2 separate regions of the Homo sapiens genome follow, and region 1 is linked to region 2. Evidence: fine-mapped expression QTL. Tissue or cell type: whole blood. Region 2 holds a variant in brackets; the other region holds the start of a gene. All regions are shown on one strand. Distances are between the middles of the regions.

Region 1 (9,873 bases), 32 kb before region 2:
GGAATACCACTGGACCCCAGTCTGGGGGGCATTAGAAACTAGGCTTCCCAGAGGCATTTGAAATTAGACTGCCATTTCTTAGGCATTCTAAGATCCAACCAATAATATTGAAAGAACAGCCCATTTTACTTGAATTTCTTTGATCCCAAAGTAAGGAATGACTTGAAAAGATTTACTCTGTTCCTGTGTTTTCAGGTTCAGAATTTCAGTTGTCTTTAAAGAGACAAGAAAGTACTATAAACCCCTCTAGTGACCTAATCCAAAATCCGATTTACATATATGTATTTTCTTGTACAATGTAGGTCCATCCACTCAAATTCCCTCACCTTAAGAGAGGAAATAGCTGTTTCTGTTTGTTTGTTTGGAGAGTCTTTTCAATGATTCGTTTATCTCACACACACTTATTGCATACATTGAATGAAATACTAAAGTGGATACACCTCGAGGAGCTCAGGTCTGTGGGGGAGACAGGTGTGCAAGTAACAGTGATAAAGTGATATCAACGCTATAGTAAAGGCATCTTTAAACTGCTGTTGATTTGCAGAAGAGACAAACAGATTCTATCAGGAGATTGAAAAATATTTTACAGAGGAGGTGATAAATGAGTTGGACCTTGAAGGCAGTAAGATTTTGTTAGTGGGGGAAGGAGAGGCATTCAGATAAAGGTAACAGCATGAGCCATAGAGGGAGGGAGAGGAAAATGCAGGCAGTGTTCAAAGAACCAGGCAGTGCACTGTGGTTGTGCCTGTAATCGGGTGGTTGGTAGCAGGGGAGGTGTGGGCAAGAGATGAAGCCAGAGGATTTCAGATTTGGGTGGGAGCGTAGGCCAGAAGAGGGAACGTTGGATGTAGTCACACTGCTGTTGGTGTTACTTAGACCTTCATTTTTCCACCAGACTGTAGTGTTCAAAATTCTTTTTAGTAAGAGAACCCTTTTTTTCTGAACTTTTTACAACCATCTCCAAATTATGAAACATAAGACTTTTTTTTTTAGTAAAAATGTATTTTTTTACAAGCACAGTGTCTTGCACCATGGAGGGGAGAGGAGGTGTTTTGTCCTTGGAGCTGCTGGCCTGAGAGAACCTTGTCATCGTGGGAGCTGGGCCATTCCTACACAGTGGTCTGGCAATGACCCGGTGGTGGTGGAGGCCTGTGAGTGGGCACTGGTAATGGGAGCAGCTGTAAAACCCTGGAGGGCAGCCCCAGGAGAGTGACCTTACCAGGAAAGTTCTGGGAAACAAACCACAGGGAGGCTTTACAGGAATTTTTGGTTGTGCCCACAGGCAAGGCACATGAGGAAAAGAAATGTAATTATAGTTTGTAAGTCGATGAAAAGAGGCAATGAGTGACATGAAATAGCTGCTCTAAGTTTCTTCTTCCTGTCGGACAGGAAGAAATGGGGTTTTATGCATTTCATTCAGCAGATATTTATTGAGTGCCAGCTGTGAGCTGGGCCCTGCACAAAGTGCAGGGAATATTGGTGGTTAGCAAAATAGTCAAGGTTCGTATCCTAAGGAACTCTTCTGAGGGAAGACTGAGATTAAGCAGATAACTGTATAAATGCATAATTACACAGCATGGTGAGTGCTCTGAAGGATAAGTGTGGGGAGCCTCATTTAGATTGGAGGATTGTGAAAGTCAAGAGACAGGAGAGTCAAGGTGAGGCAAGGTGAGTAAGAGCTATCCAGGCAAAGACTGCTTGGTAGGGGAGTGTCCCAGCAACGGGAAACAACCTGGAAAAAATATGACACCTCAGGGGAACTAAAAGCAGTTGTATGTGGCTGATGCACAGACAGGGAAGGGCAGGAAGTGTGCTGAAAGAAGGCAGGAGGAGAATCATGCTGGGCCTTGTAGGTCCTGGTAAGAAGTTAGATTTTATCTTAAGTGTAGTGGGAAGTCAATGAAGTGTGTTAAGCAGGAAATGACCTGATCTGGTGTTAAAAAAAAAAAAAAAAAAGGTGATTCAGACAGCTCTAATGACTTTGTGAGGGGAGAGTGGAAGCTGGGGCAATTAGGAGGTTTTTGCAATAATTAAGGTGAGAGATGGGTAGCATCAGAGGTGGAGAAAAGTGGACAGATAAAAGATATATTTTGGAAGTAGAATTGTTTGCAGTTGGGAAATGGGTTGGATGTGGGCAGAAATAAGAAGGGAGAGTTGAGGATGTCTCCCAGGTTTCTGGCACATGTATGCTTGCAGGCCTCTCAGTAGACAGCAGAGAGCTTATATAAGGTTGTCAAATCCTTATCCTTCAGAAGGGTCAGGTAGGATTGGTCTAAATCCAGCCTTGCAGAGGCAGTGGTGGGATTCAGCTGTCCCTGACTCTGCCCAGTTCAAGGAGTGTGTACACAGTAGCATTACCCAAGCAGGGATTCCAGTTCTCTCAGTAATGGGGCCCTTCCTTTGTCCCTTCCCCCAGGACAAGGCCCTAAGGAACCTCCATAACTCCAGCATGCCACTAGGGGGAGCATGGCCCGCATTCTGGGTCTGGTTTGGAGGGCTTCTTAAGTTTGGATTACTTCAGGAACTGACTTGTATCAGTTCTAGTACTCAGTCCTGACCCCTGGCCCCTCATACTGCTTAAAAGAATGCCTGGCATATGGTAGGTGCTCAACAAGTGTTAACTGATGTTACTACTGTATTATTAATATTATCTTATTATAGAAAGGGGTGGGATCACCCCTTCTTTCTCAGGATGGAGACTGGGCAAGTGGAATGTGCATTTTGAGGATCAGGAGGAGAGCAGAGGGATGCCTTTTGGACAAGGAAGAGGCGGAAATTTAGTGATTTGATGATACTGCATTTGCCCTTCTGTCTTGTCTTTCTTTGTCTTTCTTTGTAGACTTGGGATTCTTCAGCTGGGGCTTGGGTGGGGTTGGGGATTTATAGTGGGTGATTAGGTTCACTCCCTTTCAAGCTCTGATTGCTTCACTAAAGCAGTAGTGCCCCCCATTTAGGATTTGTGCCATTCTGTCATTTCCTGTTGGATTTTATAACACTTTCCTACCTTAACTTCTGGTATATATTTACCTTTTAAACTCAAGTCAATCAGAATCTTGTTTTGAGAATGTTGTGATATGCTGGAAATTAATGAAAAAAACCCACTAGATTCTGCATAGGATGTTGCATTAAAGATTCTATCAGGCTGGGTGTGGTAGTACACACCTATAATCCCAGCTACTCAGGAGTCTGAGGTGGGAGGATTGCTTGAGCTCAGGAGTTCAAGACCAGCCTGGGCAACATAATAAGACCTCGTGTCAATAAATAAATAAATAAATAACATCAGGACCTTTTTTTTGGGAGCACTGTTTTTGGGAGCAGCATTGGAAAATATCCTCCTTAAGCCTCAGTGTCCTCATCCTGGGGAGGGTATTAACTGTCCCAGTGTTTTTTGTTTGTTTTTGGTGAGGAGTTGTCAAGAGGAGTAAAGTTCTTAGTTCAGTTCCTGACTTGAGAGTGCTTTCACGGACAGCATCTCTTCCGATGCTCAGTCCCAGCCCTGTCAGTAGGCTCTGTAGGTGGAAAGGGGGAAGTCATGGGACTTGCCCAATGGCACATGGCCCGTTAGTGGTGGAGTCAGGCACTGCCAAGGTCTTCTGACCCCTGGTGCTGTTGCAACCACTGTGCTTAATGTACTCAAGAGACTTGAAAGGCTTGGGGATTGTTTCTAGATTTTATTTCCTGGTTCCATGACCTGGGGCAAGTAATTTTACTTCTGTTGTAGAATTAAAAAAAAAAAATCTGTTAAATTAGTATAATAATGCCAATCCTAACTTTCAGACCTGTCATGTTGAACAGACGAGCCAAGATTTTGAGAGTCGTTTAGAAAAGTGCAAGGTCACATATAGCTGTAGGGTAGGGCTTTTTCTCCGAGCTGTGCATCAGGACGTTTTACATCTTAGAGATGCTGTCTTAAGGTCTTTAGGCTGAAAGGATGGTAGTCAGCCTATCTCGCCACAACTTACAAGGATTCTCCACCTTCCCTTGGGAGCCCAGCGTTATCTCATAACCAGTTATCAAAAAGTTGACAGTTTTTGAAATCAGGTGGCAATATACTTTAGTTGAAAGTGTGCTGGACTAGGGCGAACTTGGCTGATCTCTTAGTTCTTTGACTGCCTAACTGTATAAGTGCAGATCAAATGTTTAATCTCTCTGAGTCTCAGTTTTTCCATCTATAAAATGGTCATAAGGCCAGTATGCTGGCTCACGCCTGTAATCCCAGCACTTTGAGAGGCTGAGGCAGGAGGATTGCGTGAAGCCAGGAGTTCAAAACCAGCCTGGGCAACATAGTGAGACCCTGTCTCTATAAAAATAAAAATTAAAAAAGTAGCCAGGCGTGGTGGTGCATGCCTGTAGTCCCAGCTACTTCAGAGGCTGAGGCAGGAGGGTTGTTTGAGCCCAGGAGTTTGATGATGTAGTGAGCTATGATTGCACCAATGCATTCCAGCTTGGGCAATGGAGCAAGATCCTGTCTCTAAAAGAAATTTAAGAAGAATAATAAATAAACTTGAAAAAATGGTCATAAAAATATCTGTGCAGTGTATTTCAAAAGGTTATGAGGATCAAACAAAATGATACATGTAAAAAGAATGTTACAAAGCAGAAATGTATGCTGGGTAGGGGGGAGAGGAAGGGACAGGATGGGGATGGGGATGGGACTAAACTTAGGGGGTCTGCCGTGTCCCAGGGACTGTGCTCATTTTCTGACAGGAGCAATATTATTACCGACTGTGACAGCAGCTCCCACTAAGCCTGCACCTTAGCTGCAGATCCTTAGCAGGGCAGAGAGACAAGGCTGTATTTGTATCAGGTTTGTCGTCTGGGTTGTGACTCTCGACTTGCCCAGGATTCTTCCTGGTCCTGACCGAGTTGTCTTTGCTCTCCATTTCAGGAAGATGAGAGACTGCTTAGGCGCCACCACTAGTACCATGAGTCCCTGCACTGGTTAAAGCCATCGCCACAACCTGGACAGGCAGCAAGGTAAGCAGAGAGGCCAGTCCAGGCGAGCTCCTGGGATGTGAGTGCATTTCCGCCCCAACTGCTGCCCGGAAAAATCCCAAGTGCACAAACAAGTCAAGGCAGCGCATCAGGGTCCCTCCTACCCGAGCTCCAGGACCCAGAGGAAGCTGGGTCCCCTTCAAGCGCTTCAGCTAGCTCCCTCCCCCCTGGCAGGGATTCTTCCAAGTTATAAAAAATGAGACACTGGAGGGGAAGAAAACAAGTCCACTCACTGTCTTCTCCCTTCTCCCCTCTGAGCTGTTCAAGCAAGTTCCCAGGAGCAGTTCAGAGCCCCTGTTGGACTGGAAGGGAGGTAGGAGGAGTGGAATGCATGCAAAAACCGAGCTGATCAAAAGACAGTGCTGTTTCATGGAAGCCTCCCAGAACTGAGAGAGAGAGAGAGAGAGAGAGAGAGAGAGAGACAGTGAGAAAGAAAGAAAAAGAGAGCGCCCTTGTGCACGCGCTAGGCCAAGAGCGCGCCGCTGTGCGCGCGCCCGCCTAGCGAGGACAGGGTCTCCATGACAACCGGCCTGGCCGGCTAGCAGTGCTCTGCTCACTTGGCTGCGAGGAGCGCCACGAAAGGTCAGAGGAAGGAGCTGTGGGAAGCTCGCAGCAGGTATCGGAGCTTAAGCCAGTGGATTTGGGGGCCCTGGGCTCCCTAGCCGGCTGCGGTGTGAGAATGGAGTGGGCAGGAAAGCAGCGGGACTTTCAGGTAAGGGCAGCTCCGGGCTGGGATCATTTGGCCTCCTTTCCTGGCCCTTCTCTCCGGCTGTTTTCTGGGAGTCAGGCGAGTGTCTGTAGTCTCTGCTCGGGGTTTGGGGCTCAGGAATGATGTCATGCTCCAACAGTTGGATTCTATTAGCTTAAGGAGGAGGGAAACAGCCAATTTTCTTGACTTTGCAAATCTAGCTGATCTCACTCTTGCTGAATCTGAGGTGTTTAGACTTCACTCTAAAAAGCATCATTTTACTTTTATTTAGCACAAAGGCACAGGATATTTTTACAGGAAGAATCTTTTATATGGAAAAATCTGAGTTAACATCACTCCCGTGGTGTTTGTAGTTCTTACAGGGAAACTCCAGTGCCTTTTGAGCCGCTTGTTCGTCCTAGTGAACACTGTCTGTTTTGTCTCTTGGTGCTGCTATGTCTGACCTGTAATGGAAAAAAAAAAAAAAAAAAGGCTAATTAAGCTCAGCCAGGAGCCTGTGGTGAGTTCCAAGTCCCTCTAGAGCATTTATTAGGACAGAGGGACTGTCACAGGGATGCCTGAGCTGGGGTTTTGCACTCTCTCTCTTCCAGGCAGCTTGGTAAGAATCAAGCTGTCCTCCCACATCAAAAGGTCGATCACAGACTTTCCTAAGAGGTGGAGGAGGGGGCTGGCTTGGGGTTGGGGGGCCTGCAAACAGGTTTCTCATCCAGATGTCCCAGAGTGAGCTCTCAGCAGCAGCTGCTAAGAGCTGGGGAACATGAGGCACTGTAGTTGTGCCGGGTGGATTCCTTTGGTTACATTTTGACCAAATCTCAGGGCACGCAGTGTCCACGCTGTGCACTCCTACACTGATTGTCCTAAGTTTTGGTAAAACTTGTTCTGACCTAGAGGAGTGGTACATGGTGAGCTGTGTGGCCTTGGAAAGGAGACCCTCCCAGAAAGGCAGTTTTATAGGTGATAGGGTAGTGGGGTTGTCAGTAATATTATGAGGAGGATGAATGCAGCAAACACTTCCTGCAACGGAGACCCATCAGGGGTTGTGCTTCCACTTGAGCCATGTTATGTCTTAAATTCACTTCTTGGCCTCAGGGAACTTTGCAAATGCCTTTGGTTTCTCTGTGGGATGAGGGAACAGCTGCTGTCCTGGTTCTTCAGTTTTTCTTCTTGAACTTTCTGAACAGAATGTCTTTTGTATTCTGGCAAACAATGAGGGGGCATTCTGATTAACTTCGGATCAGCTTGCCAATGCAAGCACTGGCCATGTCCCCAGTTCCGGCTCCCTAAAATGAGTACATGTATACATCGTGGTTGTGGCCTGAGGGTCCACAAGGGTGAACTCCATGGCCCTGGACCTCAGACGGTCCACTTCTGAAGTTATTCCTCTTGCTACATACACTCCAGGGATCCTTTGCTTAGTTGAAACCTACATTTTGCTGGAGGGATGTGGCATAACACTGAGCCAGTGGCCCCTTCAGTTGGCAGTGTAAATCCAGAACCTCAGCCTTCTTTTCTACTTGTGTGTGTAGTTGGAGCTCTTCAATTTTACCATCCCCACATCTGTGAAGAGGGCTAGCAGAGACCCAGTTTCAGGAGCTGCTGCTCCTTCTGTTGGTATAGCAGAAAGAATAATGGATTTGGGTTGCTAGACTTGAGTCGACGGCTAGATTCTGTTCCCATAGGGCGGCCACGGGCAAGTATCTTAACTAATAGGAGCTTCAGATTCTTACCTGTGAGATGGAGGTAATAAGAACAACTTCACAGGACTGTTGGGAGGAGCCAGTGGGATAACTTCCATGAAAGTAGTTTGAAACAAGTCACGTCCTATCTAACGAACCGTGTTGTGAATTGAAGCTTGAGGAATGACCCAACTCTCTCTGGAAAGTCACTTTGCCTCTCTGTTCTGGTTCTCTCATTTTATAAAGTGCCTTCTTCCTTTCTGCATTTATAAGTAAACATGAGAAAAATCTGAAAAGACTTCTTCAGGATGTTTAAGGAAACAAATGTTGCTTTCCTTGGGTTGGGTCGTTTCATAAGAGTGATGTTTGCCATAAAACTGGAGCCTCATAGACGATCCTGCAGGGAGGAAGCTTTCCTTGGTCACCTGACTCATGTGTTTATATATAGTATAGAGGAGAGGTATTCCAAAAGACCCGTCGCTTTTCCTGTGTCCCACAGCTGCCTGTAGAGTTGTGGCACCATAAACTTTAGCAGCTGGAAAAGAGGCCAGGCCTGGTTCCCTCATCCTGCTGGGTCCTGCTGGGCACACTCTGCAGTGGGCAAAGGGGTCTTTCTCCTTCATTCTGGGTTTAGAAGGCAGGGTTCTAACTGGGAGAAAGTGTTATTGCTCCGAAAGGCTTCTTGGGGGCTGGGCAGGTCTTTCAGGAACTCATAAGGCCACAGCTTATGGGGAAAGAAAAAGAAACAAGGAAGTGGGAATTCCAAGGGCAGAGATTCTTGATATGCCATGGGACTGTGCCAAGGAATGGAAGAGCAGGGGAAGGGAGACTCCAGGCAAGGAGAGTCCCAGGTCTGTCCTCATTGAGTCGAAAGGGCGTATGGCATACTAGAGCGCGTCACCCACAGCCCCAGCTTTACTGTAGGATGGGGAAGACCTGCCAGCCATATCCCGGAGTGGTGTCTGGGAAGAAGCCCTTGAGCAGACCCATAGTAGGCAGATTAAAAAAATGAAACAAAACAAGCAGCTCCCCTTCTAGTTGAGTCATGTCACAACAGCCTCTAAGGCCTGAAGGAGAAGCTGCCCACAGCTTAGATTGGGGCTGCAGCTGTTCCCCGACTCCCATCAGTCCGGCTTCCCAGAGCTGAGTCACAAATTGGATCTGTCTATGTTCCTTAAGGATTAAAAAGTAACATTCCTGTTCTCACTCCCTCTTTCCTCCTTCTACTCCGCTTCCTGTACCTTCTCCCCTTGGGCTCTCTCTCTCTCAAATTAGATATCAGTCACCCCGGGAAGATGAAACTTTGAAATACACTGGAGAACAGGCCAAGGACACCCTTGGTTCTGCTGGTTCAGCCTCTTTCCCTGGAATGAAGGGCGGGGTGTACAGATTCAGGAGGGCAATCCAAGTATCATGGCCCCACTGGTAGCCTAGACCTAAGAGAGGCTGTGCCCCACTCCCCACCGCATCTGATTCTAAGAACTGCATTACGGGAGGTCCACCTGGCACCTCAGGGAGATGGGAGGCTCTGAGGCCTGGGCCTTCTGAAGCACCTCCCTGTGGGGCAGTTGGGACTGAAGGATTGAAGAATACATCTTCCTTCCTGTCACTCCTCTTAGCTGTTAACTGTCATTGCCCTGGAAACGTCCCCATTTCCATCGTTGGGCCTAAGAGAGTCGGCCGAGGCAGCCAAGCCCGGGGAACACATAGTTGAGGCTGGAGGAGGCCTGGCAGCAGCCCTTCCGAGCCCTGGCTTGGCCTTCCTTCTGTGCCTCTGCATGGGCTTGGGAGGAGGGTGTGTTTAGGGCAGGCTGCGAGGAGGGGAAGGGGAAATCTGCAGGCAGATAATTGAGTTCTTTGAGTTGGAGGGACCATGGAAAGTGGAGAAGGGGCCAGGAGGGCATAGAGCGAAAAAAGAAAAAGAAAAAAAAAAAAGACCATCTGGCATAGTCTGCAGAGATTTGTCTTTAAAGCCTATGGGAAAACTTGCATTAGTGTGTGCCTTCTCCTGGGGAGGCAGGGGCTGGGGAGGCTAGGCATTTGTTTCATCCTGGAGGGGAGGTGCTATGTGTGTCTGTCTCAGTAGGTGGGTCGGAGGAACTACTGGGTGCATCTGTCTTAGAGGAATATGCCACGTAATATTGTGCTGATAGAAACACCTGAGCTCTCTATTTCTAGCCATAGGCCCCAGAAAGCTCTCCTGGGTGTGTGTGTGTGTGTGTGTGTGTGTGTGTGTGTTTTGAAGGGAGAGGAGGGTGTTAAATGAGTCTAGATTACCTTATTGAAGAATTTCTCCAAAGACCCCTTCTCTTATTTTTTTGGCTCTGATGTCATGAATGTACTGTTGTTGGGGAGGGTGTTGAAACTATCACTATACTCTTCTCATCTAAAACTGCCTGAATGTTAGATTTCACTGTCCTTATAAAAGAGTGAATTATATGCAGTTAGCGTATGAAGCCTTCTTAACCAAAGCAGACCTATTCCTACAGGCTT
Region 2 (9,873 bases):
GGTCTCGAACTCCTGACCTCAGGTGACCCACCCGCCTCGGCCTCCGTAAGTGCTGGGATTACAGGCATGAGCCACTGCACCTACCCATCTGTTTCTTCAGCTTCTCATTATCTCACCAATTCTAGAGAAACAGAGTTGCTGGTTGTGTAGGCTAAACTAAGGCCACTGTGATGTCATTGCTTTTGTCTCCTTTGACACCCTTTTTTTTTTTTTTTGTTACTGGGTCTTGTTCTATTGCCAAGGCTGGAGTACAGTGGCACAGTCACCACTCACTGCAGCCTCGACCTCTTGGGCTCAAGTGATCCTCCTACCTCAGACTCCCAAATAGCAGGGACCACAGGCATGCACCTCCCTGTCCATGCCTGGCTAATGTTTTTTTTTTTTTTTTTCGGTAGAGATGGGGTCTCCCTGTGTTGTCCAGGCTATTGGTTACCTTCTTTATCATAGTTCAATCCTGAGGGTGTTTCCTTGGCCTTCTGAATGTGTATGAGGGATGGGATCTGAAAAGTCTCCTCCTCTGGGGCTGATCTTATGACAGACTTTATGAAGTTCTACCCAAGAATCTTTCCTTCGCTCACACACTTCGCTCACCAAAGGAGCTGGTCCTGTGGCAGGTTCAGAATCTGTGAAGTGAAAAACGTATTAAAATTTTGTATGGAATTTGAGAACTGTGTAGTTCTGTCTGTACTCTCTGCTCTTCAGTCACAAACAGCTCTCCCAGCTGTCCTCCTCACTCTTGCCTTCTTTGTTCTTGTTGCTGAAAATGCCCAACCTGGATGAAAACCTCTAAGCCTTGCTCTTCCTCCTGGCTCTTCGTTTCGGTAGAGCTTTTGTTATACTTCTGTCTATGATATCTCCCTCTTTTTCTGCTTACCTTTTCCGTTATTTCAAGTAAAACTCATCTGCTATTACCAGATTGTCCTTATTTTCTTTTTGCGTGAAATTAACTAGCTTTATTGATTTTTCTAATAAAAGAAATACATGCTCATTGAGGAATATTTGGACAATAACAAAAAATATTAGGAAGAAAGTAAAAGTCACATAATCCCCTATAGCATAATTATTGTTAATTTGTGGTGTATCTTGTCCTTTGGGATCTTCTTCATATGTGTTAACATATATTGCTTTTTCCCCCAAAGTGCCATCATTTTTCACTTATATTTTGTAACCTACTTTTCTGACTAATATTACTTGGATATATTCCACAGACAGTACATACAGAGCTACTCTATAATGTTTAATGCTGCATAGAATTACATTGTATGGATGAATTGTTATTTAGTTAACCTGACGATGGACTTTTGGGTTGTTTCTGTTATTAATAGCTATGTGGGCCAAAGCAGGAGGATTGCTTGAGGCTAAGAGTTTGAGACCAGCCTGGGCAACGTAGTGAGATGCTATTTCTAGAAAAAAGTAAAAAATTAGCTGGTGTGGTGCTACATGCCTGTAGTCCCAGCTTTTCAAGAGGCTAAGGTGGGAGGATCACTTGAACCCAGGAGTTGGAGGCTATGTTGAGCTGTGATTGTGCCACTGCACTCCAATCTGGGCAATAGAGCGAGACCCCATCTCTTTGGGAAAAAAAAAAAAAAAAAAAAGGTAAGTGGTGGCAAATATCTACATATCTGTATAGCTGTGCCTACTTGTATAACTTCAGGATAGTTATTGCTAGAAGTTTCTAAAAATGGAATTACTGGTTCGAAAGCTATGTAATATACTTAAATTATTTAACAATATCTTTTTTTTTTTTTTTTTTTTGAGACAGAGTCTCACACTGTTGCCCAGGCTGGAGTGCAGTGGCGTGATCTCGGCTCACTGCAAGCTCTGCTTCCTGGGTTCATGCCATTCTCCTGCCTCAGCCTCCCGAGTAGCTGGGACTACAGGCACCCACCCCCACGCCCGCCTAATTTTTTTGTATTTTTAGTAGACATGGGGTTTCACCGTGTTAGCCAGGATGATCTTGATCTCCTGACCTCGTGATCTGCCTGCCTTGGCCTCCCAAAGTGCTGGGATTACAGGCGTGAGCCACTGCGCCCGGCCAACAATATCTTTTAAAACTTGGAAAAGTATATGGAAAAGTGAAAGGTTAATATAATAAAAATCTATGTACCCATCATCCAAATTTCATAAATGTAACACTGTACCATATTGGCTTCAGATCTGTTAACATAAATTTTTTTTAAGTTTGACAAATATGTACTCATGCTTGGAGGCTCAGGAAAAAAAATTGGACAAATATGACTAAAGCTTTCTGCAGTCCTTTCCTCCTCCTGATACTGATAAAAGCCTCATTACTGTGCATATCTTATCCTTTTACATACATGTGTCCATAAATAATGTATAGTATTGTGTTTTAAAATGTTATACACATGATACTATTCTTGCAGGCAAACCTTTTGCAGGTTGATTTTTTTTCATTCAAAGTCATTTCTAAAAAGTTTTCATGTGTAAAATCATTTGGTTTAATTGGTGTATAATGCACCATTATATGGCAGTGAGAAATGGTTAAAGTCTAATTTTTGTGTATTACAGACACTATTGTAATGACTGTGCAAGAGTTTGTGTACGCCAGCTACCTAGGAATGGAAGTGATGTGGTGGGGAGTATGATTCTTTAGCTTTACTAGGTAATTCCAGATTGTTCTCTATAGTAGTTGTTATGTGTTTACCACCAATGTATATAAGTGTTCATTTCCCCTTATTTTTGCTAACACTTGGAGATCCCATGCTTCTCAGTATTTTCCAGTCTAAGTATGATATAATATCTCATCACTTTAATTTGCATTTTCCCAATTTATCAAAGAGATTGAGCAATATTTTATTTTCTTTGAATTCTCTGTTCATATCTTTTACTTATTTTTCAGTTGGGTTTTCGTCTTTTTCCTTTAGAAGTTCTTAATATGTTCTGATTTTTAATCACTTGTCAGTTATGTGCTCTGTAATTATTTTCTTCCTGTCTGTGGCTTATCTTTTAACTTTGTATAGGTTATCCTTGTGAGGTTATGTGTGTGTGTGTGTGTGTGTGTGTGTATTCCTAAATTGTTTTCCAGAAAAATTATACTGGTTTACAGAACATCCAACAGTATATGAGAGTGCCCAGCTTGCCACACCCTGCCTGACTCTGGGAATAGTTTTATCATCTTGCCCAGTGTAATAGACAAAAAGTGGTATTGCCCCTTCTTTGGTGGCTTTTCCTAGAACATTCCTACCTCTTTGTTATAGCCAAAAGCTGGCTTTTCCCTGAAGATCTTACTTTCCTTGTGACCCTCTCCAATGAAGCCACCTCACCTCCTCCCAACTCTCGCTCTGAACTCCCCACGTTGCTTCCAAGCCCGGGCTGGCAACCTTTCCCATGAGAAGTTAGTCCCTCCTCTGCTCACTCTTGGTGCCCTTACCTGCCTATTGACTTCAGGCTAACTGTTAACAACCTTCTTCATATGTCCTCTTTTTGGCATAATTAGGATTTGAGGATTCATACTGAGAATCCATCAATGCTCCGGCCTCACAGTCCCTCCATCCTTCCAACTCTAAGGACTTCGTCTTTATTCCTCTTCGGGTACCTTTGGCTTTATCACTTGGAGCAGTTTCACTTTTAGGATGCTGAACTCGGAGATTCCCTTCCCTTCCCTGGTCTCCTGTCTGTTTCCACCTCCCACTCCTTCGCTGTCCCCTCCCAAGAGCTGGCTCTCCAGCTCTTCTCTGCCTGTGTAGCCTCTTAGCCACCCTGGCCACTGCCTACTGATTTTTCTGTTCAGCCTGAGCTTCAAAGGTAGAAATTCTCATCCTGCACTTGCTGCTTACCTCAGTTCTCTCTCTCCCTTGTCCCTCCTGTGATCATTAGCCCTCGTGGACCACTTGAACAGATTTTTCTGCCGTAGCCCCTAGACCTCTGAGTATTGCTTCATCTTTCAGAAGCATAATCTCTGACCCATCATTCTTTTCTCAGAAAACTTCTGTGATTCCCCAGAGAAAAACTAAGATCCCTGATTTGGCTCTCAGAGGCCTCTAAGAGCCGACATGTCTCTGTCTTTCCAACTCTCTTTCTCCCTGGTCTACTTTCAATTAAACTCCCATCAGACTGACAAACACTTTGTTGTCCTTCATACGTCTTCTGCTTTCCTGCTTCCAAGCCCTTGTGCATGTAGTTCTATCTGTGTAGGAATACCCCTGTATTCTTTTGCCATTTGATCTTCCAGGCCTAGCACAAGGGTCACCCTCTCTGTAAAGTGTTCTTGATCCTTTATTTGGAAGTAATCTCCTTCTACCTAAGCTTCAACATTGTATCTCTCTAATGGCATCTCTCTAGTGGCACTTAATTTCATCTTTCTAATGGCACTTAAAATAGTCTTCCTGGTATTTATGAGATTTATATGTCTATTGTATTCACCCTACAGAGTGGAAGCTCCTTGAGGATGGACCCATACCTGATGCATTTGGTGTCCAAACAGCACTAAACATATTGGCTTATGCATGGTTGGTGTTTGGTGTATATTAGCTGAATGGATGCATGACTGTAAGTATGAATGGAAGGAGGAAAGATGGTTGTCCTGGCTTCCAGGAACCATAGTTACAATTTCATACTGCCCCCCTTCTCCTGCTCTAGCGAGAAAAGAATCAGACTCACAGCTTGACCCAGGCCAACACAGGAATAGTTCAAGCTCCTGGCCCACACTGCACCTGGGGGAGCCTGAAGCTTGTCCTACCGTGGGAGCAGGAGCCTTGAGTACCAGGAATTTCAATGGGATGTTTTTGAGTTTAGGAAGTTAGGCTGGCTGCATTCCATGACATGCAAGGGAGAGGATTTTGGAGTAGCACAGAAAATGGAAACCTTGGCCGGGCGTGGTGGCTCACGCCTGTAATCCGAGCACTTCGGGAGGCTGAGGCGGGGCGGATCACCTGAGGTCAGGAGTTCGAGACCAGCCTGACCAACATGGAGAAACCCTGTCTCTACTGAAAATACAAAATATTAGCCGGTGTGGTGGTGCATGCTTATAATCCCAGCTACTCAGGAGGCTGAGGCAAGAAAATCACTTGAACCCGGGAGGTAAGAGGTTGTGGTGAGCCGAGATTCCACCATTGTACTGCAGCCTGGGCAACAAGAATGAAACTTCGTCTCAAAAAAAAAAAAAAAGAAAGAAAGAAAGAAAGAAAAGAAAGAAAAAGGAAACCCCGAGCATGCTTTTGGCAGAGGTAGGTGCAGAGAGGCTGGAGAGCATGGTAACCCAGAGGGGAGGGTTCTGTTTTTACCAAGTCACACCACTTTCCTTCCTCCATACCTGCTAGGGCTGAGCCTCAGTTGAATGTGAGAAAAAC[G/A]CTATGGGTGTGATATTTGCCACTCTCTCTGCCTTGGGACCTTGAGTCATAGTCTCATTCTTCATCTCAAACAGTCTTCTGTCTCATTCTGTCCAGCTACTGTTTGTCCTTTACAGTCTGGCTCACATTTCCTCTCCCACAGAAGCCCCGTCCAGAGCTGCTCTGTCCCCTCCACCACTCCATTGTCCTGTCTTTCTAGTTTGTGTCCCACACTTGCATCGTTTGCTGTTGTGTCTCAGTGCCCTACATTCGTCTGTGAGCTCCCCACATGTAAGAATCACATCTCATGTTTTGTTCTCTCAGCTAAAACAAAGTGGTGATCAATAATTACTGTCAATGTTATTAGGGAGCCTGCTATTGGAACTTGGAAGATTATCAGTAGCAGAAAAACTGAAGTGGGAATGGAAAGACGTGAAAGTAGAACTTAGCCTGGGCTAGTTCTCCAGAGTCTTGAGTCTGGGGAGGAACTGCCCTTTCATCTTTACCATGGGTTTCTTGAATTCTGGCTTCTGAAGCTCTGCCTTTCGACAGTAATCAGCATTTAGGCAGGTGACAGAATCAGGTGTTCAGGGTGTGCCCTCCAGGGAAGAAGAGAGAGAGGTGATGGCCGGCACCCCATGCAGCAGTGACTAATGTGGGCCAAACTGGCACCATGCCTCCCAGCCCCCGGGTACGTGGGAGCTGTAGGCACACATGGTAGATTGGAGCTGGAGGGATCATTTACCAGCCCTTCCCTGAGCTGGAAGCAGGCGGGGAGCAGCAAGCCAATTGGCAGACTTGCCTTTTCTGCCTTAAAGTACTTTGTTTCTGTTGCTAACAACAGACATGGGTAGTATAAATAAAACACAGACACACAGGCACATAGACACATGTGGAGACTGAATATTTGAGCTGTCAGGGGCAGGGGGAGGGTGGATGTGGACGGGGACTGAAATGTGTGGCTAAGCCTCTCAAGATAGTGTGCACTAGGTCTTCTCTTCAGCCTTGGAGATGGGTGTAGTGTAAGGGGTGGCTGTGTGGAAGGCCCCCTGAAAGCAGTCAAGTAGGAAGTGATACTGTCTGGATGCCACAGGCTTCAAAGACTAGGTGCTCGTTATGGCTGGATGCAGTCCTCATTAGGCAGACTCTTTCGAGCTAGTTGCTGGTGATCCAAGGGCCAATGGTAACTTCTTTCCTTCTGTTCTGCCCTTTCAAGGCTTGACTCATTGATCCCCGTTAGTGCTCACATGTGGTATAATGGTCAGCAGCTGCTGTGGCCTTTCTGGCTGACCTGAGCTGTACAAGCCAGCATGCCTAAATATGTGACTGTTGTTTTGGGTAAGCTCCTGAAGGATGTGAGCTTCCTTAGTAGAGACTGAGACCCATTCAGCCTCTCTGGAAAAGATGGTCTTAGTAGGAGGCTGAATAGTTCATGCTATAAAAAGCAACAGCTAAGTCACATGTGAGATAAGCTTATTCAGAGACTTGAGGTTCAGGTAGATTACAGGGAGGATGGATGATGAGGAAGACTGTGAGTCTCCACTGCTGGAAATATAAGTAGGGATGGGTTAGGTGTTCTCTCTTTTTTTTCCCTGGGTTGAACATTATATTCCCTGGTATCTAAGATTACATCAAGAGAGCCTCTTCTGGTTCTGGGAAAAAGAATAACTGTATTGATAGGAATTTTAGAGCACTCCCAATGTGTGTAGCTTTGAGCACTTGATTCACAGATATCTCTGACACTTGGGATGATCATCTGATGGTGTGGGCATTTGGAGTAGCTCTTAGCTGGTCTCTCTTTTCCATCTTACTGCTTTCTTGGACCATATGTGACAGGCCTAAGGAATGTCCAACAGGAGGTACCTTTGGTCCATATGAATACCAAGTCAGTAATAGTTCCAATCTTCTAGAAGCAGTGAGACGCCACTCCAGTCTGAGGGTGAGACATGAAAAATATGTGGGCCTTTTCCCCAGTCATTGATATAGCAACATTTGTCTCCCCTGGGCAGGGGGAAATGAATTAGGATTACCCTCTGGGTTGAGCTTACAAGTCTGTCTTAGGATCTCTTTTTTACCGAGGTAGCCCTCTTGGCTATCCAAGGTGGGGTGCCTGGGTGGGGGTGGCACACTGGAAGCTCATAGCAGCTGCTTCTCTCCAGGCACTGTAACTCACTAGCAGCTTAGGACTAGATGTGAGGCATGTATCACGTGGCATTTGTTACTACAGGAGTTAAAGGACCAAAGTAATCTTAAATGGGTTACCTATTCTTATAATTTAGAAGGTATGCAAGATTATACCTATAATAATAGCAAGCCCATTCACTCTCTCATAAGCTTTCTTAAATAAGAGAGGGAAGGGTGGAGTTACTCCTATGGTCAGAATTGCAGATTACCCTTTTTCCCTAAAGAGGCCTAAGGGTTGGCTCCCATGTGACCCCCATCATCTCTGTAGTCAAGTAGCATCAGGCCTAGGAACCCCTAAGGAGATCATTCTCTCTCTGTTCCCTGGCTTAGGGCAGGGATGTGAGGCTTTTGCCTGGCACTAAGGAGAGGTAGTTGACCATGGCTATTATTGAATGAGGTTGGACCCAGCCTAGCTGATAAAATTCTAAAGCAAGATGGGGCAGTGCTACCCAAGGTGGTCACAGAGAATGAAGGTTCTTATAATAGAATATATTCTAAGCCACTAGGCCGTGGTGGCTTCTTTGAAAGGTTGAAGTCTTGAAAGGTAAGAAGACCCCATCTAGCTGGGTTTCATGTGCTGCCCTCACCTTACCCCTACAAGTGGCACAGCAAGCTGCCTGCGATGTCTGGTGGTTGACTCTGCTGCCTGCATGGTTCAGGTGAGCAGAGCAGTTCATGTTGAAGCCCCTCCCACCGGTCAGGAGCCTGTAGGACTGTGTTGTTTTCCTTCCTGTGTCCTCAGTGACTGGGCTAGTGTCTTGCACAAGGCAGGTGCTTGGTCATTGTTTGTGGATTGAATGGCTTCTCAGCCTGAGCTTCAGGGGACCTTGGCCTGGGCCTTGGAGCATACTAGGAGTTGGATAAGCAGAGAGGAAGAAGGAGAGCACTCCAGGCTGCCAGTGATTTGAGCCCAGAAACATGGGGCAGAAATGGACACGTGGACATGTTTGGAGCAGAAGGTGTCCTGCCTGGAGAGAGGTAGGTGTGTGTGTGTGTGTGTGTGTGTGTGCGCGCGCGCGCGTGCGCGCACGTGCGTGTCTGTGTGCATGTGCAAGTCTGTGTATCTCTGTGTGGGCAGGTCTGGGGAGGGTGGTAGGGCCAGGGCTGGCTGAAGAGGGAAGGAAGAATTGGAAAGTGAGATTGGTTGGAACCAATTAAGGGAACCTGAGTCTGGTGTGATTGGCGGTTAAGGAGCCCAGAAGAATGACATGATGATACTGACATTCCAGGATGCTTAGTCTGTCACTTATGAGCAGAGAGGACTGGAGGTAGAAGAATAAAGGGGAGCTTGTCATACAATAATACTGTTTAACATTTATTTAGTGCCTCCTATGGGCTGGCACTGGATAAAGTGCTCTCTGTATAACCAGAGACCATTGCAGTAAACTAGGTATGAGGTGATAAAGTGGAGAAAAATTTCAAAGAAGATGACATTGTTTCTTCATATTTGGCTATATTTGGCTCTTATTTGGTTAAAGAAGAAATGGCTCCAAGGACGTCTTCCTCCTGGGTCCTGCTTCCGGCAGCGTGTCCTTGAGCATGGGGCTGTTAATCTGGCCTGGTTGGAGCTGCTGAGATTTTGCATGCTCCCTGCCAGGAACCAGTGTCCTTGGGTCTCAGCTGGGGTGTGTCCCCACCCCAGCCATCTGGAAGGTCAGAGGAATTAGCCACTAGAATGTGCCCATTAGTGGCTTTGAGGGGTTACAACCTGTCAGTGGAATCTGAAGCCCGGGAACTGCCTCTCTCCCAGGGCTTTTTGGAGTTGGAACAGCCTGACTGTTCTAGCACTGACTGCTCCCTTATTTGGACAGTAAATTTTCAGGGTGAGATTGGACTTCTCTTTTGTCTTGGGAGAGTTTTTTGTTTTTTTAAGTATTTGACATTCTTGTGAGTGATTTTCAAGGAGATAACACGACATCAGAGCTATACCTTTCTTCACCTGATTCTTTCCTTGGTCTCTAGTCCATCCACTTATAAGACCCAGATGGGGGCCAGGCACAGTGGCCCACGTCTGTAATCTCAGCCCTTTGGGAGGTCAAGGCGGGCGGGTCACTTGAGGTCAGGAGTTCGAGACCACCCTGGCCAACATGGTGAAACCCCGTCTCTATTGAAAATACAAAAATTAGCCAGGTGTGTTGGTGGGCCCCTGTAATCCCGGCTACTCAGGAGGCTGAGGTGGGAGAATCTCATGAACCTGGGAGGTGGAAGTTGCAGTGAGCCAAGATCACGCCATTGCACTGCAGCCTAGGCAACAGAGAGAGACTCTGTCTCAAAAAAAAGTGAAAATAATAATTAAAAAAAAAAAACGAAAAAAATAAGAAGACCTAGATAGGGTTCCTAGACTGCCCACTCATCTCAGTCTCCCCAGGGGAGAAGCAAGTAACATCATCCTATAGACAAG

The links. PIP is the estimated chance that this variant, and not a neighbour inherited with it, causes the effect.
Region 1: DENND2B starts here. The variant in region 2 is fine-mapped to the expression of DENND2B in whole blood (TOPMed, PIP above 0.99).

Annotation. Positions count from the first base shown.
Region 1 is chr11:8,806,351-8,816,223 of GRCh38, reverse strand. DENND2B (DENN domain containing 2B) reads left to right here and starts at 5,550. Exons shown (of 20, transcript NM_213618.2): 1 at 5,550-5,707. DENND2B-AS1 (DENND2B antisense RNA 1) reads right to left here. Exons shown (of 5, transcript NR_120590.1): 5 at 5,948-6,147. RefSeq lists an enhancer at 9,627-9,873.
Region 2 is chr11:8,774,769-8,784,641 of GRCh38, reverse strand. All of the region lies in intron 1 of DENND2B (DENN domain containing 2B), which reads left to right. It overlaps DENND2B-AS1 (DENND2B antisense RNA 1), which reads right to left. Exons shown (of 5, transcript NR_120590.1): 2 at 434-623. Among named protein-coding and RNA genes, the nearest start is that of DENND2B-AS1, 11 kb to the right of the region's middle. The variant G/A (reference allele first, on the strand shown) is at 5,310.